Linked DNA regions of Homo sapiens. The protein of the gene in region 1 purifies or fractionates together with the protein of each later gene. This does not show direct contact. Each region holds a gene or a part of one and is shown in the gene's direction. Other genes may lie near its edges. The genes, in order: HSPA12B, AKAP12, ZC3H7A and EEF2K.

Region 1 (7,025 bases):
GGCTGGTCTCGAATTCCTGACCTCAGGTGATCCACCTGCCTCAGCCTCTGAAAGTGCTGGGATTACAGGAGTGAGCCACGGCGCCCGGCCCAGAGTCTTTTTTTTCTGGTGGTTCTAGGTTGTTTCTCCTCCAGATACAATAGCCTCGGTCCAGAAAATCCATTCATTCATTCAACAAAGTGGTTCCCCAGTGCTTAGCACAGAGCCTGGCATGAAGAATCTCGATAAGTGTTTGCTGAAGAATCAGAACAACATACAAATAAGGCTGCCAGCTCCTCCCTCGAGACCTTGATCCAGTAGTATGCTGGTTAATGGTTTCCAATCAGCTCTGGAAGAAGGATAAAATCCTGATTTATGGTGTTTGCCAATTTCTGTCTTGTAAATACTCCCAGCCATGACTGATTTGAAGCTACCAATGTGATGTCATTGAATGCAGAATTGGGAAGAGATAGAAAGAATCAGCTCGCATGAGCTGGTGGGACCCAGCTCAGCATCCCACTCCATCATCCTGAGCTGGGCTCTGGGCTCCTGCCCCTGGCTCCTAAGAACCCTCCCCTCCCCCTCTCTGTGCTTTCCCTTTTCTCCTCAACAGCCAGCTGCTATATGCATGCCCACAACCAGCACCCATCCTTCTTCTGATTCTGATTCCTGAGCATCCAACTCCAATGGTACAGAGGACAGCAAGAGTGTCTGGAAATCTCCATGGTGCTGGCCATGCAGGAGAATCCTGGACATACAAGAGTGTGTGGGAGTCCAGGTGTCTGTCCACAATGGGGCTGGTTTGTGTGAACTGTGTGAGCAAGGGTGTGTGCATGTGTCTATGGGCATGCCAGAGCCAGCTCTGTGTCTGCCTGTGTTCTATAGCAAAACTTTCAGATTGGGCCGCTGGTGACAGAGAAGGAATGCATTGGCCCTGCGTAGCCTCCTCCTTTGTTTAGAGGAGCAGCCAGGCCCACCAATGAGAACATAGTGTCAGTGGTCTGCAGACTGGCTGAGAGACACTGTTGAGCAACACTTCTCAAACTTCAATGTGCACCTGAATCACCTGGGAATCTTGTTAAAATAGGCCAGACGCGGTGGCTTACGCCTGTAATCCCAGCACTTTGGGAGGCTGAGACGGGCGGATCACCTGAGGCCAGGAGTTCGAGACCAGCCTGGCCAATATGGTGAAACCCCGACTCTACTAAAAATACAAAAATTAGCCAGGCATTTTTAGGTGGCATTTTAGGCAAATTAGGTGGCGCATGCCTGTGGCCCCAGCTACTTGGGAGGCTGAGGCAGGATAATCACTTGAACCCAGGAGATGGAGATTGCAGTGAGCTGAGAACTGAGATCACGCCACTGCACTCCAGCCTGGGGGACAGAGTGAGACTCTGCCTCAAAAATAAATAAATAAATAAATAAATAAATAAATAAATAAATAAATAAATATGAAATACATGTTCTGATTCAGCAGGTCTGGGCTGGGGCCTGAGGTTCTGCATTTCTAACAAGCTTCCAGGTGATACCAATGCTGCTGATCCTCAGCCCACACTTTGAGTAACAAAGCTGTTGATGGTTTGAAATATCCTGCCTATAGCCTGGCCCCAGAACTTCATAGACAGGATCGAGCCCCTCCCATCTTAGAAAATAAATATTCTTCCTCACCTCCCTTCAGCTTTAGCGCCCTCCAACTACTGCCCTCACATGTATTCCTGATTTCAGCCAAGCTTTTCAGAAATTCTAGCTCAATATGATTGCGTCACTACACTCCAGCCTGGGCAACAGAGTGAAACTCCATCTTAAGAAAAGAAGTTCTAGCTCATGTCACCTCTTGCTCACTCCTCACCTAAGCTTACCTCCCTTGGGCCACTAAAACAGTGTTTCCAGTCTCATCTGGGGACCTTTTACAGGGATCTAGCTTTACCCATCTCTTGGTACAATCTTCATGAGACCATGAGGCATCTCAGTCTCCTGGGCCGGTATATATTCCTCTGTTCAGCCTTTAAATGTAGGTTCTCCTCGTGACAGAGTGACACCCTATCTCAAAACAAACAAACAACGAAGGCCAGGCACGGTGGCTCATGCCTGTAATCCCAGCACTTTGAGAGGCCGAGGTGGGCGGATCACCTGAGGTCAGGAGTTCGAGAACAGCCTGGCCAACACGGCGAAACCCCGTCTCTACTAAAAATACAAAAATTAGCTGGGCATGGAGGCACTCACCTGTAATCCCAGCTACTGAGGAGGCTGAGGTAGGAGAATGGCTTGAACCTGGGAGGCAGAGGTTGCAGTGAGCCAAGATCGTGCCACTGCATTCCAGCCTGGGCAACAGAGTGAGACCCTGTCTCAGAAAAAAGAAAAGACAAATTGAGTCATGCCCCCACCCCACCCTGCCACCTCAAACCTTTCAAGATTTGCTGTTGCCCTTCATATAAAATCAAATCTGAAATAGGGTGCACAGGCCCTGCCTGCAGGGTAAGCCCAGCCCAGCCCTCTGTCCAGACTTACCATGTCCTCTTCCCACCCCGCATTATCCAACTTTGACCTTCCTAGCACTCAGCAACGCTTGTCATTTCAAAATCACTTGCCTGATTATCTCCTCCATCAGACCGTTGGTTTCTAGGGCAGGGACAGTGTCTCTCTGGGTCACTATCTCCCAGCACCTGGCACAGAGCAGGCACCAGAAAACATTTAGGAGGATCCTGATTCCAAGAAAGTAAAGCCATTTTTTGACACAAGCTGGGAACTGTGGGACTTTAGATGAGATTTAAGGAATTACTGTTAATTTCATTAGACATGAGAATGGTGTTGCGATGACATTGTTTAAAACGTCTTTATCTGTTGGAGAGATGTATTAAAGAGTTCACGGGTGAAACAACATGATGGCTGGGATTTGCTTCAAAGGACTCCAGCCAAAAGTAAACAAATAAAATAAATAAGCATTCAGATGAGGGAACAAAGGGACAAATAAATCCCACTCTGCTTGTCTGTTCCTGTTGACAGCTACAGGGCCTGCAAGGATGTTGGCTGTCCCGGAGATGGGCCTGCAGGGGCTGTACATCGGTAAGAACCCCCACCATTCTGCCCTGACCCATCACCCACTCACCCGAGCAGGCACTGAGACCCACCTACAGGTTGTGCAATGTACCTCTCCCACAGAGCTTCCCAACAGCTCTTCTGTGAGTGAGTGTGTGTGTGTGTGTGCATGTGTGCAGGGCAGGTCTGTGTTTACTGGACCCCCCTGTGTGTGCAGAAAGGGTCTGTGTGCACCGGTCTGTGTATGTGAGTATGTGTGCACACAGGACTGGTCTATTCACAGGACCCTCATGTGTATATGAGTGTGGGCTGAGTGCGTGTGTTTGTGTGTGCCAGAAGGGTCTGTGCACACAGGAGTGTATGCATGTGCGTGTGTTTTGTTCAGGCTCTGTCCACAGGACCCTGTGTGAGTGTGTCAGTGAGTGTGTGTCTCTGCGGGCAGGTCTCTGTGCACGGGATCTGTGTACGGGAGTATAGTCTGCAGGTGGGCATGCATACAGAGAGTTCTGCGTGTGCATGGAGGGTCTGTGTGCACAGGAGTGTTTGAATGTCCATGTGTTTTGTTCAGGCCATGTGCACAGGACCCCGTGTGAGTGCATCAGTGAGTGTGTGTCTCTGCGGGCAGGTCTCTGTGCACAGGATCTGTGTACGGGAGTATAGTCTGCAGGTGGGCACGCATGCAGAGAGTTCTGCGTGTGCATGTGCGTCTGGCCATAGCCTGGTCTGGGAGCAGGCTTGGGTTCTCCGCAGGGGTGGGAGGCCGGAGGCAAGAGGGACACTCCTCAGGAAGTCCATTCACAAAGACCTGGTGGGCTGGGCCCTTCCTTCCTGCCTCCCTTCCCAAGCTCGAGCCACAGCAACTTGGCCTCTCGGGCTGCAGCTGGTGGCAGGGCTGGAGCCTGCCCTGGCTGCCTGAGGAGAGGGAGCCCTTGAAATGTGGCCACTTTTTCCCTGCCCCTCCAGCACCTCAGACTCTGGCCCTGTCCAGGCGCTTCCCAGAGTCCCCCTCATGCCTGGCCCTTCGCCTGTGTTCCCAGGTTACCCCCAAGGCCAGGGAGAGTGGAGACCTGCCTGGCAGCACGTGACAGGACTGTGGCTGAGGGAGCACAGGGCCTGCCTGGCTCAGCCTAAGGCGAGCCAGACCTGCCTGATTTGTCCATGGAGCTTCCTACCAGATCTCACTCTCCCTCCCTAGCCAGCCTCCCTGGCCTGTCCATGGATATCAAGGCTGCCCCAGTACTCCTCACATGCCCCTTAGCAATGCCCAGTGTGGTGGTGGCAGCTACCAGCCAGGCAGGCCCTCCTGCCCCATAAGCCGCCTGATCCTCGGGGCGAGGCCTGGGGCTGTCCTCCAGGGCTACTCCACTCCCTCCCACCAAAGGTCCAGCTCAGTCCCAGGCGTGCAAGAGGGTCTTGATGGGGCGTCCTGCCCTGAAATGCTGGCTCAGGGTGTGTGTATGTGTGTGTGTGGGGGGTGGGAATCAGACTTCCTAATGTTGTGGACACCCCCAGTTCAGGACTGGGCTATCTCTATGGGTGTGGGAGGAGGTGCTCCCCCTCCTCGATCCTCCTCAAGCAGCCAGCTGGGCCTGTCTGTGGCCCTTGTGGGCATGGGAGCTGCAGAGTTCCCTCAAGTCCTGATTAGAACCACGTGGCCCAACTTTAGGGTGGAGGGGAGCAACCCCACCTCCTAGCCAGTTAGCTCTGTAGCTCCACCTTTTGAAGGAGGAGGGCTTCTCTCTCCTCTACTCCCTCCCAGGAGCTCACCTGCCCTATCTCCCCTGCCCTTCCATCTCTGGACTGAGTCTCCCTGCCACACAATGCTTTTCTGTCTCTCTCCCCTCCCACACTGTGTGTCTGAGGGGCCCTAGTGGGGAGACAGTGAGCTCCTGGGGAAAGCATGGGTCATCTGCTAGGGAAACGTTGCCTCTGACAGCAGACCCTCAGCTCCTGCCCCTGCGTCATGTGTGTCTTTCCTACACCCCGCAGTCCTCCTCCCCAGCAGAGAGCCCTTTGCCTTAGCCCAGCAAGGACTGATGGAGAACCTTTGGGTGCCTGGCTTGGGGCCCCGCTGCCATACCTACCCTGCTTGTGCCAGGATGAACTGCCGTCTCTTCTCTGCAGGCTCCAGCCCGGAGCGGTCCCCAGTGCCTAGCCCACCCGGCTCCCCGAGGACCCAGGAAAGCTGCGGCATTGCCCCCCTCACACCCTCGCAGTCTCCAGTAAGCCCAGAGCAGGGACCAGGTGGTGGGTGACCTGGCTGGTGTGGACAGGGTCGTGCGTGGCAAAGTCATGACAGGGCCTCAGCTAGGAAGGAGGAGGGGATGGGGGTAGCACCATGCCTCTTGTCCCCGTACACTCCAGTCATGTGCCCCCCAGAAGGATTGGCCTTGGGTGACCCTGGACTATAAAGGGTAACAATTCTACTGAGAAGGCGAGCCCCATGTAACTAACTCCCAACCCCCCCACACAGGAGGCACCCACGGCCATTGAAGCTGGCCTGGCTGAGGCAAGTGTTCCCCTGAGCATGTGGCTTTTCTAGGTCCCCAGAGCACTGGGCCTCTTGTGGACCACAGCCCACCTTAATCCAAGTCATATCTGAAGGAGAGGAGATGTGTTGCCAAAAAAAAAAAAAAATAGTCTGGAAACCATTAGCTTGGGCTGGGCATGGTGGCTCATACCTGTAATCCCAGCACTTTGGGAGGCCGAGGTGGGCAGATTGCTTTGAGCTCAGGAGTTCAAGAACAGCCTGAGCAACACAGCGAAACCCCATCTCTACAAAAAATACAACAATTAGCTGGGCGTGGTGGTGCACACCTGTAATCCCAGCTACTCGGGAGGCTGAGGGTGGAGAATTGCTTGAACCTGGGAAGCGGAGGTTGCAGTTAGCCAAGATCGCACCACTGCATTTCAGCCTAGGTGACAGAGTGAGACCCTGTCTCAAATAAAAAGGAAACTACTAGCTTGAAGTATCCAGGACACCACCTCCCCACCCCCAAGCTCCCTGGGTCACCCCACCTGGATGACCTTGCCCTGGTGATCCAGCTTAGGGACCCCCTTATTCTTAGGGGAGTCCAGCCCTGGCATAGGAGAAGGCACACACTTCTCTGGGGACATGCACGTGCCCTCTCCTCTCTGCCACAGAATCAGACAGTCTGGTTTGTGTCACTATGGCCACAAAGAGCAAGAGGATAAAATATATACACTGGTCCATGTGCTGTAAAACTGCCTGGAGGAGCAAAATTGCTCCCAGCTGGGCCCAGACTAATGGCTGCCTATGAAGATGGTGTGAGGTGGGGGTGGGGCTAAGGCAGTCCAGAGGGAGGGTGGGCAGAGGCTGGAAGCAGGAAAGCAGGAGCTTGAGCCAAACCCTGCCTGGGGCTACCTGAGAGACACGTCCAAGGCTCAGCCTGGAGCCTGGGAGGGCAAGGGAGCCCGAGCAGGTGGGCAGGTGGGGTGGGCCAGGTCCAGGGCTGGTCTGGACCACAGTCAGTGGAGGGGAGTGTCTTCCCCATGCAGAGGAAGCATTGGGGCTGTGGGGGATGGGGGTGTCCCTGCTGGCTGCTTGCTAATTCTAAGTCTTGCACTTGCAGAAACCCGAGGTCCGAGCCCCCCAGCAGGCCTCCTTCTCTGTGGTGGTGGCCATTGACTTCGGCACCACGTCTAGTGGCTATGCTTTCAGCTTTGCCAGTGACCCTGAGGCCATCCACATGATGAGGTGAGGTCGGCTGGGCTGAGAGAGTGAGGTGGGGAAGGTGGGGAGTTCCTCATACCTTGGTCCCAAAAGTACTGTCACCGAGACATGGGGTCTCCTTGGAGGCCCTGCCACCCCCAGTCTGGGGCTCCCCACTGGGGTAAAAGTTGGAGGATGGGCCCCAGGCCTGGGTCCTTGGCCTCAACTGGAGCAGCTCCCAACCCTCTGTAGGAAAAGTCAGACTTTGTTTTTAATTTTGAATTTTTTTGAGATATAACAAACATAACAATAAAATATGCAAATGTTTTTTATTTTC
Region 2 (6,994 bases), on another chromosome or scaffold:
AAGCGGCTGAGCTTTAAACTTCATCTGTAAATTGAACATTTTCTGTAGCTTCCATATGAATTTTAGATTATTAAGTACTCATGAATTGAATACAACTGTTAATTCTTCTAGTTTATAATTAGCAAATTATAATTAATGCTCTAAAATAATCCGTCTCAAATCCTCACATAGAAAGTAAAATTCAAATAATTTACTCACAGTTTCTTCCATAGACTTCTCAACAGGGTAATAACATTATTCTTGGTTATTTATTTTCCAGGCCATGTAAATGTTAATATTCTTATTTGTAAAAAGTAAAATCATATCTTAAGAGATGCATGCGCACATTCTAGTACTCTCTATTCTGCCTGAAACAGCTCTGTGATAAGGGAGTATTAAGAATAACAAATTCACACGAGCACAAGATAGAGTGGGAATTAGGTTCTTAGATGACTGGATATCTCTGTGGGAACAACTGGTTTAGAAAGAAGTAGGTGTTTTATCCAGGGAAAACAAAGAAGTTATAATCAAGAGAGAAGCAGTTTCAAAGGTGAAGGTGAAGAGTTGCCAGTCTCAGCGAAGGCTTTGTAACTAGAGAATGAATCTTTAGGGTAGAGTTAACGGTAGATTTTAAACTGTTTTAATAATTAAAATTATTATTGCACTTTGAAGGGGGTGTCTGAACTCAGTTGTAAAATGTTTGACATTTGTGAATTCCTTTAATGTTATATTTGAAACTGTTTTGGTGCATGCACAAGGTGCCCAACTATGACTCTACATTTTATTGTTAAACCTCATGTGACCCGTCTTTCTGGAGAAGTATGTGTGCGAAGTACAGGTTCAGCCTGCTACACAGGCAACATGTATTTGTTTTTGAGAAATCTCAAACTGTGTTTATGAGAGAATTAACCCTCTCAGGGAAACAGCTCTACCAACGACTGCCCCATGGGAGAGGATGTGTGGGGACACCTGCATCCTGCTATTTGGAGAAAAATTGAGCTGCTGGTGAGACATTGAACCAACAGCCTTGGACTGAGAAGTGAAAAATAGAGAACACCTGCCTCCCCTCTACTCTGATGCCAATCCAAGCAATTCCGAAGGCATCTTGGAAGCCCTAGAAAAGAAAACCTCAGTGACTCGATTTAGAACCTTGGAAACTAGAGTGGTAACTTTGTGCTTGGCACATAATAGGTACTTGATAGAAATTTATTGAAAGAAAGAAAGAGAAGAAGGAAAGAAAGAAAAAGAAAGAAAGAACAGAGAAGAAGGAAAGAAAGAAAAAGAAAGAAAGAAAGAAAAGTAAAAAAAGTAACAAACTTTGTAGCATTCTGAAGCACTAAGTGGCATACCCAAAAGGTTGGGCTATTTCATCGCTAGAGGTCATTAATAACACAACCACTTTTCTTTTCTTCTCTTTTTTTTTTTTGAGACAGGGTCTCACTATGTCATCCAGGCTGCAGTCTGGAACTCCTGGGCTCAAGTGATCCTCCCGCCTCAGCCTCCCAAGTAGCTAGGACTACAGGCATGCACCACCACTCCTGGCTAAATTTTTTTTTATTTTTTGTAGAGATGGGAGTTTCACTGTGTTGCCCAGGCTGGTCTTGAACCCCTGGTGTCAAGCAATCCTTCCACTTCAACCTCCCAAAGTGCTGGGATTACAGGCGTGAGCCACCGCGCCCAGCGCAATGATTTTACTTTTTACAAATAAGAGTATGAACATTTACATGGCCTGGAAAATAAACAAAAAGCAAGTAACTGCTAATCTAAGCAGATGCTGATATCTTCCTCAGCACGTAGGTTGTACACTGTTGGCTTGACCCTGCAATCCTTTCTGAAAATTTAAAGGGTAGTAGATGTGAAAAGCTTTGCTAAGAATTTCCCAGGAACAAAGTAAATATAATCTCACAGAATGTGAAAATGTTGATAGTATTTGTGCTACTTACTGATACATTTTCAAATGTGCTGACGTTAATCATTCTCAAATAGTTTTTTTTTTCTTCTTCTTTTTTTTTTTTTGGGACGGAGTCTTAATCTGTCATCCAGGCTGGCGTGCAATGGCATGATCTCAGCTCACTGCAACCTCCACCTCCCAGGTTCAAGCAGTTCTCGTGTCTTGGCCTCCTGAGTAGCTGGGATTACAGACACGCGCCACCATGCCTGGCTAATTTTTGTACTTTTAGTAGAGACGGGGTTTCACCATGTTGCCCAGGCTGGTCTTGAACTACTGTCCTCAGGTGATCCACCCACCTCGGCCTCCCAAAGTGCTGGGATTACAGGTGTAAGCCACCACACCTGGCCTCAAGTAGGTTTTAACAGTGCTTTTTGCTCTTAAAATCCTAAGTGAGGTCCAAATGCCACGTTTCAGTAACACCTCTGAGAGGAGAGAACACAGTTGATTGAAAGGGAAGGGGAGTGCCATGCGGTGGTGAAGCGTGGACCCTGAAAGCAGATGCCAGTTGGACTTCCTGCTCTTCCAACTCCTGGCTGTGAAACCTGAAGCACACAATTTAATTTCTCCGGGCCTACTCCTCCCCCTCCTGCCAATGGTAAAATGAGAATAATACTATCTATCCCATGGGGTTATTGTAAAGATTATTATGTAAAGTGCATTGAACAGTGCCTGGTACAGAGTAAGAATTCTAATGTTTCCTAAATAGTCAAAATTTAAGTCAAAATGGGGGAAATGTGTATAAATTCCTAAAACTAAGCATTTTGCAAATATACTGTTTCTTAAGAGATAAACTCCAGAGAAATTGGCCTTCGTGTAGTCCTTTAAATAAAAATAATTAATTCAGAAAACAGGCCCAGTGTGGTGGTTCACACCTATAATCCCAGCACTTTGAGAGGCCAAGGCAGGAGGATCGCTTGAGCTCAGGAGTTCAACACTAGCCTGGGCAACACAGCGAGACCTTGTCTCAAAAAAAGAAAAAGAAAAAAAATTAATTCAGAAAACAAATTTGATGGTGAGTAACTAACCTATGGTTCCCAGGGTACCATTCGATTCATGCAATTCATTAGGCATGAAACATCCTAGTGCTGAACTACTGCTTACACCCTTTCTACAAAATTGTACTAAATCTGAGTATGAGATATTTATCTGGAATTTGGTGTGAATATTCCGAAAGTTTCTTCCTTCTTTCTTTCTTTTTTTTTTTTGACAGAATCTTGCTCTGTCGACTAGGATGGAGTGCAGAGGCACAGTCATAGCTCACTGCAGCCTCGAATTCCTGGGCTGAAGTCATCCTTCTACCCCAGCGTCCCCAGCCTCCTGAGTAGCTAGGACTACAGGTGCACCACTGCGCCTGGCTAATTTTTTTATTTTTTGTAGAGACAAGGTCTCGCTATGTTAACCAGGCTGGTTTCTTCATTCTTAATGGAGATTCAAAGTATTTGTGAAAACTGGGGCACTCGGTTGCTAGTTACAACTGGAATAAATTTTGTCTTTCAGCCCCAAAGCCTTAATGCTTTGCGCCAAGCAATCCAGCTACAAATTTAATTTAGTTCAAATACTTATTGATTGGCTGCCATGCTCATGTAATACATATTATATTCAAGGGTCGGAAATGAAAGGATGCAAGCCACTTGTGCTGGTATTATTTAAAGTCTTCATCTTTTGAGAAAGGCTGACGGCAAAGGAACAGATCTATGCTGTCATGTGTCGGCATCGCGCGGAGCAGAGGTGGCCTGGATGGGTAACTTCCAGCACAGGCCCTCAAAGAAGGACGGGCACATTTCCGGTAACAGCCTCATTTCCCCCCGTTCCCCGGGGGAAGGGGGGCGGCTAGCACTGCTGATGGCATCGCCTGACATCACTTGTTCCGGAGGATAGGAGAGCGTGGGCCTGCGTGGCCCACCTCATCCGTGGCCTGACTGCGTTAACCTCTCGGTTCCCTGCTCTTGCCACGTGAGGTGCCCAAATATGGTCGGACTCAGGAGGAGCCAGGGAGCGCTTGCCTTTCTCCTGCTAATGGGGAGGAGGCTGGAACAAATGTTTGGAGTTAAACACAATCTGCAGGAAAGCAAATGGGGACTCGGACTCGCTCCTGGGCGAGCTGAAAGTCGGCTGCAGCAGAAGCTCCTGCCTTGGGTGATCCATCATTTAATAAACCCCAGAGAATCCAGTGTCCCCGGCAGGCTTTTTGCTCCCCTGCTCTCTTGCCTTCTGAGGCCCTGGGTCGTCCCCGCAGCTCTAGTCGCCCTGTTAGAAACGGGAGGCGCCCGAGGGCCGGGTGGGCGGCTGCCTGGACCTGGGCTGGCGCGTCGCAGCGCCTCTGGTCCCGGCAGCCTGGGGGCAGATGCTGCTGCAGGGCGTGTCTGGGGCTGTGCTCATGTGATGAAGCGAGGGAAAAACCGGGGGGAGGGGGGCGGAGGCTAAGAGGTGGCCTTTTTTTTTTTTTCCTTTTCTTTTAAGGAGTTTGCCGCGAGCGCGTCTCCTTCATTCGCAGGCTGGGCGCGTTCGCAGTCGGCTGGCGGCGAAGGAAGGCGCTCTCGGGACCTCGCGGGCGCGCGTCTTTTGGCTCTTGCCCCTGTCCCTGCGGCTTGGGGAAGGCGTAACCCGGCGGCTAGGCGCGGGAGAAGTGCGGAGGAGCCATGGGCGCCGGGAGCTCCACCGAGCAGCGCAGCCCGGAGCAGCCGCCCGAGGGGAGCTCCACGCCGGCTGAGCCCGAGCCCAGCGGCGGCGGCCCCTCGGCCGAGGCGGCGCCAGACACCACCGCGGACCCCGCCATCGCTGCCTCGGACCCCGCCACCAAGGTACGGGCGTGCCGGGCCACCTGCGCCGGGAGGCGCGGGTCTTTGGGGGTGGGGGTGGGGGTGGGGGGGTCCCTCCGATTTCCGCCGAGAGAACTTCCCAGCCCATCCAGCCGCATCTGCAAACTCAGGAGTGCGAACCCCTCTTTGGAGGCTTTTCAGGGTCTTTCGCGCCGGGGCGGGGCCAGAGCAGCGGCGAGCGCGGCGGGGGGCTTGCATCTTTGTCGCGGGTCTCCAGGGGAGGCGACTGCGCCATGCGCAATAATAAAACCCGCGCCCTGCCCACGGCGGCTGAGCCTTTCTGCGCACTCTTCCGGTGGGAGCCATGCAGCCCGAGGCGGAGGAGCTGCGCGGAGGGGGATCCGTGGAGAATGGACCCCGGGCCGGGCCTCCGGAGCTCCGAGATGCGGAAAGTCAGCTGTGAGGCCAGGACTCGTGGTGGAGCCCGCCGGGGAGCCCAGCCACCCTCGGGTTCCCCGTCGCGTACCGCCCTGGATGCCAGCGGTGCCTGGAGCGAGCGGGTTTGGTACCCAGTCCTCCTGCGGCAGCGGCCCGAGCAGGCACCGCCTTCCCGAGGCAGAGAAAGCCTGGGGTGTAGCTCGCTCAGAGCCAGGAAAAACCTGGGCAGGCGCTGCGTTTCCAGAAGGAATGACAGGTTTCGCAAACCAGCCAGCGCCCTCGCGTTCGCTCAGCGCTTTGCCTGCAGACTCAGTTGGCCAAACACACGCTAGAGTGGCTAGAAGTTCTCAAAGGATGGGGTCAGTGTAACGAGCATTCCGGGTACTCTTCCCTGGACGCAGTGCTGAAACGACTGCATTTTATCGGCTTCAGTCTTCAAGGCTGGAATATTTCTTGTGGGCCAGGACAGCCGCCAAGACTGTGGCTTGTTCTGGTCGTGGTATTTTAGATCTATTTTCCAGCGCATGTGTTCATTAGCAAGGCTTCACTCTACTGATTTTGTGATACCCTTGTATCACAAAGGTACCCTTGTGATACCTTGTAGAAAGATGTGGATAACCATGTTTAATAGTTAAATTTGCGGTATGTCAAATTTGAGGATAGAGTACGTGAGTTATCGCAGGAGGTGTAGATGTTTACAATATGCAAAAAAAAAAAAAAAAAGGAACCTACAACCATGACCTAATTGCCTTGACCTCCTTAGCTGCCCTAGTCTCTTTTGGGCTGAGAGACTGCTGTTAATAATATAGTTTTTACCGCCAGTCTTTGATTCATAACTACTTGTAAAATCCATGGTCCCTAGATATTAAGTACTAACTGTGTCTCTGTGCTATGTAGGTTTTTCTAAGAGATGCTTAAGCTTCTGGCCTGAGGAATGTACTGTCCTTTTGAGATTCAAGTCGCATTTTAATACTTACTGTATGCACATAATGTTTTGATGCCAGCTACTGTCAAAGTGGCTCTGTAACCAGTGGTCAGAGTCTAGCGATGAAAATAATTTTAAGGTATAATTGCTAAAAACTTGCAGTTGGGTGACATTCCCCCCACCGCCCCGGCTTTTATACTCCTTCAGATCTTACTAACTGTTCACCCTGAAATATGGGATTTAATCCCTTCCCAGTAAACTTGAATTTGTTTATTTAAAAATATTCCTTCCATTCTCTTTTTCCGTCTTCCATAACCTTATCCTTTTCCTCTTTCCAAGTTGCCAACCGTCTTGAAGCAACCAAACAACCTCCTTTTAAAAAATCACTTAAATGACATCCAGAATATCATTGAACTTGTTGGCATAATGCCCAGTTATCAATTTGGAGACAAATCAGTGCACTTACATGTATCCTTGGAATGTATTTAGTTTTCATTTGAACTAGCCAAATTTATCACTCAGGCTTTGAACACAAATGTCTTTTCAAAAGGACTCCCCAATTAAGAATGACTCAGCACCATGGCCCTTGCCTCCCCTCTTCTTGTTAAGCTCCAATTCCTGACCTCCAAGTAATCCCATCTCCCACTCTAGGCTCCGTGGCACCATGGACCCGTCCCAGCAGTTTTCACATGTGTGGGTTTAGTGTTCTTGCTGTTGTGAATACTTCGCAGGGGCAGGGAACACGCCTGGTTGTGCCGACCAACGGTGTTCCTTCATGCGTGCCATGTTGCCTGGCACAGAGGCAGCTCTCAGGAATACTTGTGGAAAGAGGAAGGGGTGATATTGGCTCCTTGGTTTTGATTGGAAAATATCAAGTTGGAGAATACCTTGACCTATCTGATTTTACTACAATTTAACCCTTGATCATTTCATTATCACGTG
Region 3 (7,025 bases), on another chromosome or scaffold:
GTAATCCCAGCTACTCGGGAGGCTAAGACACGAGAATCACTTGAACTCAGGAGGTGAAGTCGCAGAGAGCCGAGATCGTGCCACTGCACTCCAGCCTGGGTGCCAGAGTAAGACTCTGTCTCAAAAAAAAAAAAGAAAAGAAAAAAAAGAACTAAACTAAAGCGTGATAGAAATAATGAAGGAAAATGACAAACTTTTATACATGCTAAAAGAATGTGTATACTTACTTGATAAGAAAAAAGTTTAACATCCCCCTCCCCCCAAATCAGTAAATGACCTGAGCAATTTACAGAAAAAGAAATACAAGGGGTCCGTAAAAATGTGGAATAGTTCAACTTCACTGGTAAAGACATGCACATACAAAGAGGATACCATTAAAAAAAATAAATAAACACAAAACGATACCATTTTCCACCTAGAAATTGGTAGATTTTACATATATGTGCACGGGTACCCACACACGTGTACACACACACACACTACCTAGTGTGTATGGGTGCTATAAAGTAAACCACTAGAAACATTTTTCATCATGGCCTTTTTGGAAGGCAATTTGGAAATACTGCTCAAAAGCCTTAAACTATTCATTCTCTTTGACTTGGGGCTTCCACTTGGTTTCTCTAGCGGGCACAGAATTGGAGATGTGAACAAATATTTATAAGGTACTTTGCTGCATTTTTCTTAATAGTGAGAAATTGAATTTCCCCTTGAAAAAGCAAGCAAGATTCAATCCCTAGCTGAGATAGCAGTGACTTGGGCTGCATCTCACAATTTCTTAGAGCAATGCTGCTGTTCTGTCACATTGTTTCCTGTGAAGTTTTAGGTATAAAAATTAAAATTTACTTATACCATATCTTGTTTGATAAAAGGCTTCAAGTGGTAACTTTCTTTTTTTTAGGTATATTTGCGTGCTCTCGTGAGAAATCTTTTTAATGAAGGAAATGACGTTTATCGGGAACATGATTGGAACAACTCGATAAGCCAGTACACGGAAGCCTTGAATATAGCTGATTATGCAAAATCTGAAGAAATTTTAATCCCCAAAGAAATAATTGAAAAACTATATATAAATCGTATTGCCTGCTATTCTAATATGGTGAGTTGTAATTTTTAAAATGATGTTTCTAGAGTGAAAAGAATTTTTTCAATGACTTAGTACATTAATAAAAAGTCAATTTCTTAAGTTTTTAAGAAAGTCATATTACCTGCTTTTGGAGTGGCTTGAGGCTTTTAAAAATTAGCTTTGGATTGGCCGGGCACGGTGGCTCACGCCTGTAATCCCAGCACTTTGGGAGGCCAAGGTGGGTGGATCATGAGGTTAGGAGTTTGAGACCAGCCTGGCCAATATGGTGAAACCCCGTCTCTACTAAAAATAAAAAAATTAACTGGGCATGGTGGCGTGTGCATGTAGTCCCAGCTGCCCGGGAGGCTGAGGCAGGAGAATCGCTTGAACCCAGGAGGCGAAGCTTGCAGTGAGCCGAGATTGTGCCACTGCACTCCAGCCTGGGCGACAGAGCAAGACTCCGTCTCAAAAAATAAAATAAAATAAAAAAATAAAAATTAGCTTTGGACAGAAGGTTAGGGATTTAAGAAATAATTTGTTTCTTAGTTATTGGTCCTTGATGATTCCCATTTGAGTATGGCTTTTGAAGGTGTGTCTGCTTATAAAAAAGTCATCCAGGGAAGATACAGGTCTTCACAGGTCAGTGTGTCTTTCAGGTATCCCTGTTCACAGTTAACATCTTAGTCAAGATCCAGTTGATCTTGTAAAACACTCTTGGTAAAAAACACTCTTACGAGTGTTTTTTTTTTTTTTTTTTTTTTTGAGACAGTGTCTCGCTCTGTCACCCAGGCTGGAGTGCAGTGGCACGATCTCGGCTCACTGCAACCTCCGCCTCCTGGGTTCAAGCAATTTTCCTGCCTCGGCCTCCCGAGTAGCTGGGACTACAGGCGCATGCCGCCGTGCCCAGCAAATTTTTTGTATTTTGTTAGAGATGGGGTTTCACTGTGTTGCCCAGGCTGTTCTCGATCTCCTGAATTCAGGCAATCTGCCCGCCTCAGCCTCCCAAAGTGCTAGGATTACAGGCGTGAGCCACCGTGCCTGGCGAGTGTTTTTTTAAATCAAGAAATAGTAATTAGTCTTCAAAGGAATTCACACTAGATTTTCACATTTTTAAGCTTAAAAGCTTTTGAAGTGCTTTTTTTTCTTTTTTTCCTTTTAAAACTTTTTTTTTTTTTTTTGAGACAAGAGTTTCACTCTTGTTGCCCAGGCTGGAGTGCAATGGCACAATCTTGGCTCACCGTAACCTCCGTCTCCCGGGTTCAAGAGATTCTCCTGCCTCAGCTTCCCGAGTAGCTGAGATTACAGGCATGTACCACCACACCTGGCTAATTTTGTATTTTTAGTAGAGACGGGGTGTCTCCATGTCGGTCAGGCTGGTCTCGAACTCCTGACCTCAGGTGATCTGCCCGCCTCAGCCTCCCAAAGTGCTGGGATTACAGGCATGAGCCACCACGCCTGGCCACCTTTTTTAAATTTTTGAGATGGAGTGTCACTCTGTTGCCCAGGCTGTAATGCAGTGGCACAATCTCGGCTTACTGTATCCTCTGTCTCCTGGGTTCAAGTGATTTTCCTGCTTCAGCCTCCCGAGTGCTGGGATTATAGGCACCCGCCACCACGCCTGGCTAATTTTTGTATTTTTAGTAGAGATGGGGTTTTTACCATGTTGGCCAGGCTGGTCTCGAACTCCTGACCTCAGGTGATCCACCCACCTCGGCCTCCCAAAGTGCTGGGACTACAGCTGTGAGGCACTGTGCCCAACCTGAAGTGCTTTTAATTTTCACTGTGGATACTCGGTAAAATATAACCATGAATTTAAGAAAAATATCCGTGTTGTCACCTAGCTCTTTGTTAAAGAGCATTCATTGTTTATTTATTTTGTTTTGGGTAATATATTCCTTATCAGTTAGCTGTTTGGAGTTACGTTTCTGTTTGACATCTTAATGTGCTCCAGCAAAGGGTAACTACAGAGGAGCGAATAGGAGAGGGACACATGGGGACATCAGTTAGGTCTGGAAAGCTTTATTTCTTGAAGATCTGGGGACTTTCTGACCAAATATTAGCATTTGTCTGACCTGGATGGTGTGTACATGGGTATTCATGATATTCTTTCTACTTTTTTGTATTTGAAATTTCATAAAATAATTTAAAAAATAAAAGTAATACTGCTAACTTGGAGTTTAGAGGGAGGGTAATAGGATGGGGTATTAATTTGTTTTTATTACAGGAAGGCCTCAGTGCAAGAAATGAATTGTTTGATTGCTGACTTTATTCTTTGGTCTTACACACCAGGGTTTCCATGATAAAGTTTTGGAGGACTGCAATATAGTCCTCAGTTTAAATGCCAGTAACTGCAAAGCTCTGTATCGGAAATCTAAGGCTTTAAGTGATTTAGGAAGATACAAAAAGGCTTACGATGCTGTAGCAAAGTGCTCCTTAGCAGTGCCTCAGGTATGGAATTTATAGTTTATTTGTTTACATCGTAACCATTTACATCATAATAAATGGCATTTAAAGAGTTAAATTTTCCAGTCATCCATCAACCTGCTTCAGTTGGGTATAAATGCTAATGAAGCAGGTGTCTTGATGGGAAACTTCCCTGTTTTGTCTATTCTTCTTCACCATTAGTAAATATAACCCTGTTAATTATACATACTTATTTTTTTCAGGATGAGCATGTAATAAAACTAACTCAAGAACTAGCTCAGAAATTGGGATTTAAAATAAGAAAAGCGTATGTCAGAGCTGAGGTAAGCTGGAGTTCTCTGCATAAGGTGTTTTCATTTTGTTTTAGAACTTGGAGTCAGTTCTGTTTTTAAATTAGTGTCTTTATTTTATTTCAGCTCTCATTAAAATCAGTTCCTGGGGATGGGGCTACCAAGGTAAAGTTATTTTTTCTGTCAAAATTATATTTTTTTTTAAAGGGAAGGATGGGAGCAATTCTACTTTTAGTATTTTTGGTGTGTGTTTATTTTTGGAACCTTTTTAATTCCTCAAACACGTAATTGGCAATACCCTCCTGTCACTTTATTTATTTTTTTGAGACAGAGTCTTGTTCTGTTGCCCAGGCTGGAGTGCAGTGTCCTGATCTTGGCTCACTGCAACCTCCACCTCCTGGGCTCAAGTGATCCTCCCACCTCAGCCTCCCGAGTAGCTGGGACCACAGGCACACACCACCATGGCCTGTTAAATTTTTGTATTTTTTGTAGCGATGGGGTTTCACCATGTTGCCCAGGCTGGCCTCAAACTCCTGAGCTCAAGTGTTCCTCCTGCCTTGGCCTCCCACCAAATGCTGGGATCACAGGCGTGAGCCATCTCTTCTGGCCTCTTCTAGTCACTTTACAAAAGAACATCTACAACTCAAGTAATATATTTTAGCTGTAACCAGCATTTCCTGAATGCTCCAGTGGGGCATTTTATAGGATGTTAATAGATGTTAGGTTTCAGTGCAATAAGAGTGGTTCAGGGCCAAATACTAGTTTTGGGAGTCATTTGTGATAAAATTAACAAAGGGTTTTTTTTTGTTTTTGTTTTTAATTTTAAAATTAAAATTTTCTTGGGGCTAATAGGATGCTAATGGCTATTGTGAGTTGGGCAATGATTGGTGGCCAAATTCATCCCTGTTATTCTGCTGAATAGCCTTTGAGAAATGCTGGTCCACGAGAAATAAGTGGCAGCACTGCTAGACCAGCACCTCACCTAACACCACATGTATACAGGTTTGCGTGTTCCATTCATTTCTTGGATCTTAATTGGGAGTTGAATTTCTGTGGAAACCTGCATTGTTCTCTTAGGGTGAGTTTTTTCTTTTTTTCTTTTTTTTTTTTTTCCAAGACAGAGTCTCGCTCTGTCACCTAGGCTGGAGTGCAGTGGCGCTATCTCAGCTCACTGCAGCCTCCACCTCCCGGGTTCAAGCAGTTCTCTTGCCTCAGCCTCCTGAGTAGCTGGGATTACAGATGCCTGCCACCATGCCTGGCTAATTTTTGTATTTTTAGTAGAGACAGGGTTTCACCATGTTGGCCAGGCTGGTCTCAAACTCCTGACCTCGTGATCTGCCTGTCTCGGCCTCCCCAGGTGCTGGGATTACAGGCGTGAGCCACTGTGCCCGGCCTAGGGTGAGTTTTACTGATTGTTTTATGGCTTAGAGTCCTGAAAATATTATAACCCATTGTTTGGTTTAATTTCTAGGCTTTGAACCATTCTGTGGAAGATATTGAGCCAGGTATGTTTTCACATATCATCTTAACAATTTGAATAGTGCCAGCTTTGTACCTGATGTCTTTGTATGTGATGTATTGTCAAATAATATCGCTGTGTGGTTATATTCATATTAATGTATTAATATGAAAGTGAAAATGATTTCCAATGCTCCCTTTGTGCCTTTGGATGTGCCAGTGAGTGACTGAAAAGTGTTGGATGTTAGTAAGCAATCACTGACACCCACTGTGGCCTTGCCACTGTCTGATAGCTGTGCCCAAAGAGAGATACAGGCATTTTGTGAAAGAAGGATAAGTTTTCACACGTGACTGTATCTGTTTGGAATTGCTTTACTATACTGTCAATTTTATTATTTTTATAATTGCCTTCATATTTTCATCTTTGTATCTCTATTATTGGGGATTAATGGTATTATTATGTAAGTACGATGAAAGTGACTGAGTACATTTCCATCTGTGTTACAGATTTATTAACTCCAAGGCAAGAAGCAGTTCCTGTTGTCTCTTTACCGGCACCCAGTTTTTCTCATGAAGTTGGAAGTGAGCTGGCCTCAGTTCCTGTTATGCCCTTAACTTCTATTTTGCCACTACAAGTGGAAGAGAGCGCTCTGCCATCTGCAGTGCTGGCAAATGGAGGAAAGATGCCCTTCACTATGCCAGAAGCTTTTCTAGATGATGGAGATATGGTCCTTGGAGATGAACTAGATGACCTGCTTGATTCTGCACCTGAAACTAATGAAACTGTTATGGTAAGTTTCAGTGTTACTCAAGTTTCTTCTGAAGACAGAGTTAACTTTTTAAAAATTGTAATATAACTTGATAGACTTTTTCAGTATTGCATATAGGCTGAATTTGGGGGTTTTTTTAACCTTGAAAGTTACTTTTTTTCTTCTCTACTGAAACTGGTTAATTTGATCATTTTGAAATAAAAAAAGAATGCTATCTAGTAATTAGCCAATTTTTTTCCAATTCATATTGGGATCTCATATTATGGAAAGGGCAAAGATAACATTCTGATAAAAAATAGGCGTTTGATATTTAAGAAAAAATGAATTATATAGATTAAAGACTTCTTATTCTTTTTATTTATTTATTTTTTTTTGAGACGGAGTCTTGCTCTGTTGCCCAGGCTGGAGTGCAGTGGCGCAGTCTTGGCTCACTGTAAGCTCCGCCTCCCGGGTTCACACCATTCTCCTGCCTCAGCTTCCTGAGTAGCTGGGACTACAGGCGCCCGCCACCACGCCTGGCTAATTTTTTTGTATTTTTAGTAAAGATGGGGTTTCACTGCCTTAGCCAGAATGGTCTTGATCTCCTGACCTCGTGATCCACCCGCCTCGGCCTCCCAAAGTGCTGGGATTACAAGCGTGAGCTACCATGCCCGGCCTCAGGACTTCTTATTCTTAAAGATAATCCTCTAGCAACCACATACTTTAAAGCGGGGTTCAGCCAACTGTAGCCCACAGGCTAAATCTGGCCTATTACCTGTTTTTGTATGGCTTGCAAACTAAGAATATTTTTTACAATTCTTAAATGGTTGAGAGAAGAACAAAAAAGAGAATAATATTTTGTGACATATGGAGATTATATGAAACTAGCCTGGGTAACCATAGCAAGGGCACATCTCTACAAAAAATTAAAAACAGCCTGGCATAGTGGTGCGTGCCTGTGGTCCCACTGCTTGGAAGGCTGAGGGTAGAGGATCACTTGCGCCCAGGAGGTTGAGGCTGCAGTGAGCACTGATTGTGCCA
Region 4 (7,025 bases), on another chromosome or scaffold:
ACAGATGGAGGCCAAGCTCTGGGGGGAGGAGTATAATCGGCACAAGCCCCCCAAGCAGGTGCGTGGCCCCACTACCTGCCCCCTTTCCATGCCAGGGCAGCTGGGCACAGTGTCTGGGAAAGAGGGCCATGGTGAATCCCTATTTCACCTTCTTTTTTTTTTTTTTTGAGATGAAGTCTTGCTCTGTCACCCACCACCAAGGCTGGAGTGCAGTGGCATGATCTTGGCTCACTGCAACCTCCATCTCCCAGGTTCAAGCGATTCTCCTGCCTCAGCCACCCCAGTAGCTGGGATTACATACAGGTGCCTGCCACCACATCTGGCTAATTTTTGTATTTTTAGTAGAGATGTGGTTTCACCATGTTGGCCAGGCTGGTCTCGAACTCCTGACCTCAAGTGATCTGCCTGCCTTGGCCTCCCAAAGTGCTGGGATTACAGGTGTGAGCCACCATACCTGGCCTCTTTCACCTTCTTAATAGTAGCTAATAACAACCACTGTTTACTGAGCATGATGAACCAAGTCATTTATTTTATTTTTATTTTTTTTGAGACAGGATCTTTCTTGGTTGCCCAGGCCAGAGTGCAGTGGCATAATTACAGCTCACTGCAGCCTCAACCTCCTGGGCTTGAACAATCCTCCCAGCTTGGCCTCCTGAGTAGCTGGGACTACAGGGGTATGCCACCATGCCTAGCTAATTTTTGTATTTTCTGTAGAGAAAGGGTTTTGCCATGTTGCCCAGGCTGGTTTCAAACTCCTGGCCTCAAGCAATCCATCCACCTCGGCCTCCCAAAGGGCTGGGATTACAGGCGTGAGCCATTGCACTTGTTCCAGAGTCATTTATTCCTAAAAACAGAGCTCTGAGGTCGGAATGTTTTTATCCTCAATTACAGATGGGATCTATTAGTCAGGATTTTTGTTTGCAAATGACAGAAACCCACTCAAACTGCTTAATCCGAAAAGGGAATTCATTGCCTTATGTAACTGAAAAATAATGCTGCCACAGGCACGGCTGGATGCAGGATTAAACTGAGGTTGTCAGAATCTTCCTCCATCTCTGGCCTGGGTGTTCTTCTGGGTTGGCGTCATTCTCAGGCAGCCTCTGCACTAGTGGTAGCACTCTGGCCCCCAGCAGGCCCAAGTTCTTGTTGGAATGACAAAACCTATTTCCCCAGAAGTTCCAATAAAAGTCCCAGAGCTGCGTTTCATTGGCTCTGATTAAGTCAGATCCCTATTGCCGAGCCAATCACAGTGGCCAAGGGGCAGGAATATGCAGATTGGGCACACCCTAGCCATGTGCCTGCCCTTAGAGCTAGGAATGTAGGTGTTCCACCCAGACCACAGGGACTGAGACTGGAAAAGGTGAGATTCCCAAGAAAAAGCGGAAGAAAGAGCTGGGAATGTATATTAGTCCGTTTTCACACTTCTGATAAAGACATACCCAAGACTGGGTAATTTATAAAAGAAAAAGAGGTTTAATGGACAGATAGTTCCATGTGGCTGGGGAGGCCTCACAATCATGGCAGAAGGCAAAAGGCACATCTTACCTGGTGGCAGACAAGAGAGATTGAGGACCAAGCAAAGGGGGTTTCCCCTTATAAAACCATCAGATCTCGTGAGACTTATTCACTATCATGAGAACAGTATGGGGGAAACCACCCCCATGATTCAATTATCTCCTACCAGGTCCCTCCCACAACACGTGGGAATTATGGGAGCTACAATTCAAGATGAGCTTTGAGTGGGGACACAGCCAAACCATATCATAGTGGATACTATGTCTGCTCTTTGGGAAACCCTGGGCTCAAAGAGGCTAAATGACTTCCCCAACCAGGCAGAGCTGTAGCCAGGTCTCAAATGCAGGCTTTTCAACCCCCTGCTAGGTTGGCACCTTCATTTGAGCCCCTAGGGTGATGAGTGACTGAGGCCAAGCAGAATTCCCTGTTGCCTTTCGGCATTTGAGGAAGGATCCATGCCTCTGCCCTGCATGAGCCCACAGCTGAGATCTTCCACAGCTTGAGCATCTACTACATACAACGCACAGTCTCCTGGGTGTGCAGAATTTATTGAGCACCTGCTGTTTGCAGAGCCCTTGATGAAGCATACTTGAGGCAGGCGCAAGAAGCCACAGTCCCCACCCTGGGGGGCTGTGGCTTCCTCTGCAATTTGCGGCCTTCCAGCCTGGCCTCCTTTCTCTTCCTCCACAAGCTTGTTCCTGCCCCAAAACCTTGGCCCTGGCTGTGGGCTTGGCGGGCATCTTGTGTCACCGTAATTCTTGCATGGCTAGCTACTTCTTATAGTTCAGGTCTCAGATCCTGTGTCACCTCCTCAGCCAGCCCATCTCAGACAACCCTAAGAAGTGGTCCCTCTGCCCCAGTCACCTCTGTCACATCATTCTAACTTTTTTTTTTTTTCCTGTTCTTTGGAGCAGTTAGTATGTCATTCATTTAGTTAATATTTTAGGTGCTTCTCTCCCCTAAAGGCAGAGATTTTATTTTATCATGTTCACTGCTGTCTCCTAGTGCCTAGGTGTCCAGTAAATAATACTGTGGTAGGCCTGGCACAGTGGCTCATGCCTGTAATCCCAGCACTTTGGGAGGCTGAAGTGGGCGGATCACCTGAGGTCAGGAGTTCGAGACCAGCCTGGCCAACATGGTGAAACCCCCGCCTCTACTAAAAATACAAAATTAGCTGGGCATGGTGGTGCACGCCTGTAATCCCAGCTACTTGGGAGGCTGAGGCAGGAGAATCACTTGAACACGAGAGGCGGAGGCTGCAGTGAGCCGAGATTGGGCTACTGCACTCCGGCCTGGGTGACAGAGCAAGACTCCATCCCCAAATAGTAGTAGTAGTAGTAGTAGTAACAATAATAATAATAATAATAATAATGTGGTTGACTTAAGGGAGGGAGAGAGACGTGGTTGTTTGAGAAGGTGCTGGTTGTCCACTGTGGCTGTACCACTGCCCCTCGCCCAGGGAGCCCTCTGGCCCAGCAGGTGGCCCTGCTGTAAGTTTCCTTGTAGGGATGGGACCAGCCTTTGGGCAGAACCCTCTGAGAACCGCCGCTCCCTGCCTTCCCCTCAGGCCGGTTCTCAGAACCCATTGAAGCCTTGTTTGGGGCAAGTTCTCACCTCTCAGATCAGGACCCCTTCGGCCTCTGCATCTGTTGTCTGCATGTCTGGTGACCCACTCTCCATGGATGGTCGTTTCCTTGGGAAACCTGGACCTAATCCTCCCAGGAGGTGGCATTGAGGAGGACATGGGAACCAAGGATGAGTCCTTGTGTAACAGGGCAAGAGGTGCAAGCTAGAGTCCCTAATCTCCCCTACTCCACTTTACAAACCATATGCACTATTTATACATTTTCTTCTGTGTACAAAATTAAACATAGACTTTATAAAAACAAAAAAAATTCGGCAAGGAATGTCAAAGTTCCCTATAATTTCCCATTGCAGGGAGAAAACTGCTGTTTAGAGGTTGGTTTATATTTCTCTAGAATTGTAGCTCCTGATAAAAATGAGTTGCCAGGCACAGTGGCTCATGCTTGTAATCTCAGCACTTTGGAAAGCCCGGGGTGGGGGGGCGGATCACTTGAGGTCAGGAGTTCAAGACCAGCCTGGCCAACATGGTAAAACCCATCTCTACTAAAAATACAAAAATTAGGCAGGCATGGAGGCGGGTGCCTGTAGTCCCAGCTACTCAAGAGGCTGAGGCAGAGGAATTGCTTGAACCTGGGAGGCAGAGGTTGCAGTGAGCCAAGATCGTGCCACTGCAGTCCAGCCTGGGCAACAGCCTGGGCAATAAAATATAAAATAAAATGAAAGCAAACATTGCCTGGCTCCTTTTTGCATCAATAAGTTTAATTCACAGACTGAGCCTGAGACCCTCTTTATGCAGGTAAAGAAACTGAGGCACAGAGAGGTGAAATTCAGAAATGTTCCCAAATTCACAGTTTTACTGTAAGGCATAGTCTAAGTTGCTTAGCAAACAGACCCACAAAATATGTGTGGACACGAAATGGTTTCTTTTTCACTTGTGTGGAGGTCTTGCATTGGTGGGTGGCTTGGGGTAGGCTTGTTTGTGCCTCATCTCCTTGAAGCCATCTAGAGAACTCGTTCCTTTGGTCTTTTTTCTCTGCCATCCCCTCAGGGGTTTGCCATGGACCACATAATCAATTCTGGCTCCCAAGCAGAGTCCACCTTACAGGGCAGGCTGGAGTTACATCATTGCAATGCTCACTTCCCATTGGCTGGGCACAGTCATGTGGCCACACTTAGCTGCAAGGGAAGCTTAGCAATGTCATCCCTAGTGGGTGGCTGTGTACCCTTTTAAAACTCAAAGGAAAACAGAGCTGAGCACAGTGGCTGCAGCTTGTCATCCTAATGCTCTGGGAGGATGCTGGAAGACAAGAGGATTGCTTGAGGCCAGTTCTTGAGGCCAGTTCAAGACCAGCCTAGGCAACATAGTGAGACCTCGTCTCTATAAAAAAATTTAGATATGAGCCATGTGTAGTGACACACGCCTGTAGTCCTAGCTTCTCGGGAGGCTGAGGTGGGAGGATCACTTGAGCCCAGAAGTATGAGGCTGTAATGAGCCATGATTATGACACTGCACTCCAGCCTGGGCGACAGAGTGAGACCCTGTCTCTAAAATAAATTTTTTTTTTTTTAAGACGGAGTCTCACTCTGTCATCCAGGCTGGAGTGCAGTGACATGATCTTGGCTCACTGCAACCTCTGCCTCCTGGGTTAAAGTGATACTCCTGCCTCGACACCCTGAGTAGCTGGGATTTTTGGTACGCACAAGCACGCCCAGCTAATTTTTGTATTTTTATTTTATTAATTTTTTTTTTGAGACGGAGTTTTGCTCTTGTTGCTCAGGGCTGGAGTGCAGTGGTGCAATCTTGGCTCACTGCAACCTCTGCCTCCCAGGTTCAAGTGATTCTCCTGCCTCAGCCTCCAGAGTAGCTGGGATTACAGGCATGTGCCACCATGCCTGGCTAATTTTGTATTTTTGGTAGAGACAGGGTTTCACCATGTTGGCCACGGTTGGTCTCCAACTCCTGGCCTCAGGTGATCCACACACCTTGGCCTCCCAAAGGGCTGGGATTACAGGTGTGAGCCACCATGCCCAGCCTTAATTTTTGTATTTTTAGTAGAGGCAGGATTTCACCATGTTGGCCAGGCTGGTCTCGAACTCCTAACCTCAACTGATTCACCTGCCTCAGCCTCCCAAAGTGCTGGGATTACAGATGTAAGCCACCGTGCCCAGCCTAAAAATATATTTTTTTTAATTTTAAAAAAATTAAAGGAAAAGAGGAGATTAGATTCTGGGCATCATCAGGAGCTCCTACAATAGAGAGCTAGTAAGTCATGGAGCCAGGGTCTGAGCCCAGGCAGGCGAGTTCCTCTGAGCCCTCCCCTTGCCGCTTCTCAGAGGAGGTGCGCCTGGGCCCTCCCGCCTGAGCCCACTCCCCATCCCACCAGGTGGACATCATGCAGATGTGCATCATCGAGCTGAAGGACAGACCGGGCAAGCCCCTCTTCCACCTGGAGCACTACATCGAGGGCAAGTACATCAAGTACAACTCCAACTCTGGCTTTGTCCGCGATGACAACATCCGCCTGACGCCGCAGGTGAGGCCGAGCTCACCTCCACCCTCTGCCCACCACAGCCCTTGGGGTGAGATCCTGGCCAGGCTCAGCCCCTAAAGAGGAAGGTCCCTGTGGGCTTGGAGTCTCACCCCCAGAGAAGCCTCTTGGAGCATTCAGAAGGAGACCCGTCACCCCATGACAGCTTCTGTCACCTAAGGTGGCCACAGGACCTGCAGCCCAAGGTCCCTGCCCAACTGAAGAGGCCTTTTTCCTTTGTCTTTTCCTCTATATAACTCCTTGAAGAGAAAGCCCCTCAGCATGGGCAGAGGCGTGGCCAGTGCCTGCACAGACCTCAGCCTGTCTCTTGACATCTCGTTTTCCTTCCTGTCCCCTGTAGGCCTTCAGCCACTTCACTTTTGAGCGTTCCGGCCATCAGCTGATAGTGGTGGACATCCAGGGAGTTGGGGATCTCTACACTGACCCACAGATCCACACGGAGACGGGCACTGACTTTGGAGACGGCAACCTAGGTACGTGGGGAAAGCCAGCCTGTTTCTGCAGAAACCACGCTCCCTGCTAAAACCTCTGAGTTCTTCGTACAGCCAAGGAAACAGGCTGAGACACTGTACGCGCTTTTTCAAGATCATGGAGATGGGAGCCTGGATGTCTGATGCCTCCCAGCTTGGCACGTTTTATACCTGCCCTGGCCATATGTATGAGGCCCACCACTGCCTGTCCCCCGTCACAGAGCAAAGCAACACTCCAGACACCCCCGCTCTGTCCACAGGTGTCCGCGGGATGGCGCTCTTCTTCTACTCTCATGCCTGCAACCGGATTTGCGAGAGCATGGGCCTTGCTCCCTTTGACCTCTCGCCCCGGGAGAGGGATGCAGTGAATCAGAACACCAAGCTGCTGGTGGGTGCCCAGTGTGACCCTGCTTGGCCTGGCAGGCCCTTCTGCTACTTGCAAAGCAAGCCCTGCTCCCCTGTGTGGTGACAGCCAGGTCAAGCAGTGCTTAACTGATGAATACCAGGGCTGGAAGCATCTGTCCCATCCATGCCCCAGCCCGTCCCCTCCAGCTCAGTGCACAAAGCCCTCCTGAGCGTCCTTCCAATCGAGCAGCTGGTATCTGCTTAGGTTGGGCCCATTTTTTACCAGAGTGAGGGGAACAGGCACGTGGAGATAGTGAGAAGGCATGTGGTGTGTGTGTGTGTTTGTGTGATGTATTGACAAATGACTGAACTAGTCTTAGACCTGGCTCTCCAGGCACCTCACCAACATACCTCCCATCCTCCCATTGCTACTTGGACCAGGGACAAGAGAATGTTGCAAAGACCAGCTTGGGATGCTGGACATAGAGTGGAATGCTTTCTCCAGCTCTGGGCTGTGGAATGTGGTCAGTGCTTTAGGGGATACTGGCAGGTCCTCTGAGCC

What was found.
Region 2: the proteins of HSPA12B (region 1) and AKAP12 purify together in Homo sapiens (co-immunoprecipitation; 2 studies listed by BioGRID and IntAct, with this or other methods). This does not show direct contact.
Region 3: the proteins of HSPA12B (region 1) and ZC3H7A purify together in Homo sapiens (co-immunoprecipitation; 2 studies listed by BioGRID and IntAct, with this or other methods). This does not show direct contact.
Region 4: the proteins of HSPA12B (region 1) and EEF2K purify together in Homo sapiens (affinity purification with mass spectrometry; 3 studies listed by BioGRID and IntAct, with this or other methods). This does not show direct contact.

The regions. Positions count from the first base shown.
Region 1 is NC_000020.11:3,735,676-3,742,700, forward strand, and holds part of HSPA12B (heat shock 70 kDa protein 12B), read left to right. Parts: intron 1-592; exon of another isoform or gene 593-665; coding exon of another isoform or gene 666-668; intron 669-715; exon of another isoform or gene 716-757; intron 758-2,982; coding exon of another isoform or gene 2,983-2,999; coding exon 3,000-3,042; intron 3,043-5,139; coding exon 5,140-5,237; intron 5,238-6,608; coding exon 6,609-6,733; intron 6,734-7,025.
Region 2 is NC_000006.12:151,235,994-151,242,987, forward strand, and holds the start of AKAP12 (A-kinase anchor protein 12), read left to right. Parts: upstream 1-3,973; 5' UTR 3,974-4,066; intron 4,067-4,390; 5' UTR 4,391-4,569; coding exon 4,570-4,731; intron 4,732-6,994. UniProt on the Homo sapiens protein: Anchoring protein that mediates the subcellular compartmentation of protein kinase A (PKA) and protein kinase C (PKC).
Region 3 is NC_000016.10:11,773,237-11,780,261, reverse strand, and holds part of ZC3H7A (zinc finger CCCH domain-containing protein 7A), read left to right. Parts: intron 1-898; coding exon 899-1,096; intron 1,097-3,352; coding exon 3,353-3,511; intron 3,512-3,729; coding exon 3,730-3,810; intron 3,811-3,903; coding exon 3,904-3,942; intron 3,943-4,308; exon of another isoform or gene 4,309-4,855; intron 4,856-5,248; coding exon 5,249-5,282; intron 5,283-5,742; coding exon 5,743-6,026; intron 6,027-7,025. UniProt on the Homo sapiens protein: May be a specific regulator of miRNA biogenesis. Binds to microRNAs MIR7-1, MIR16-2 and MIR29A hairpins recognizing the 3'-ATA(A/T)-5' motif in the apical loop.
Region 4 is NC_000016.10:22,251,265-22,258,289, forward strand, and holds part of EEF2K (eukaryotic elongation factor 2 kinase), read left to right. Parts: coding exon 1-58; intron 59-5,483; coding exon 5,484-5,633; intron 5,634-5,988; coding exon 5,989-6,121; intron 6,122-6,378; coding exon 6,379-6,506; intron 6,507-7,025. UniProt on the Homo sapiens protein: Threonine kinase that regulates protein synthesis by controlling the rate of peptide chain elongation.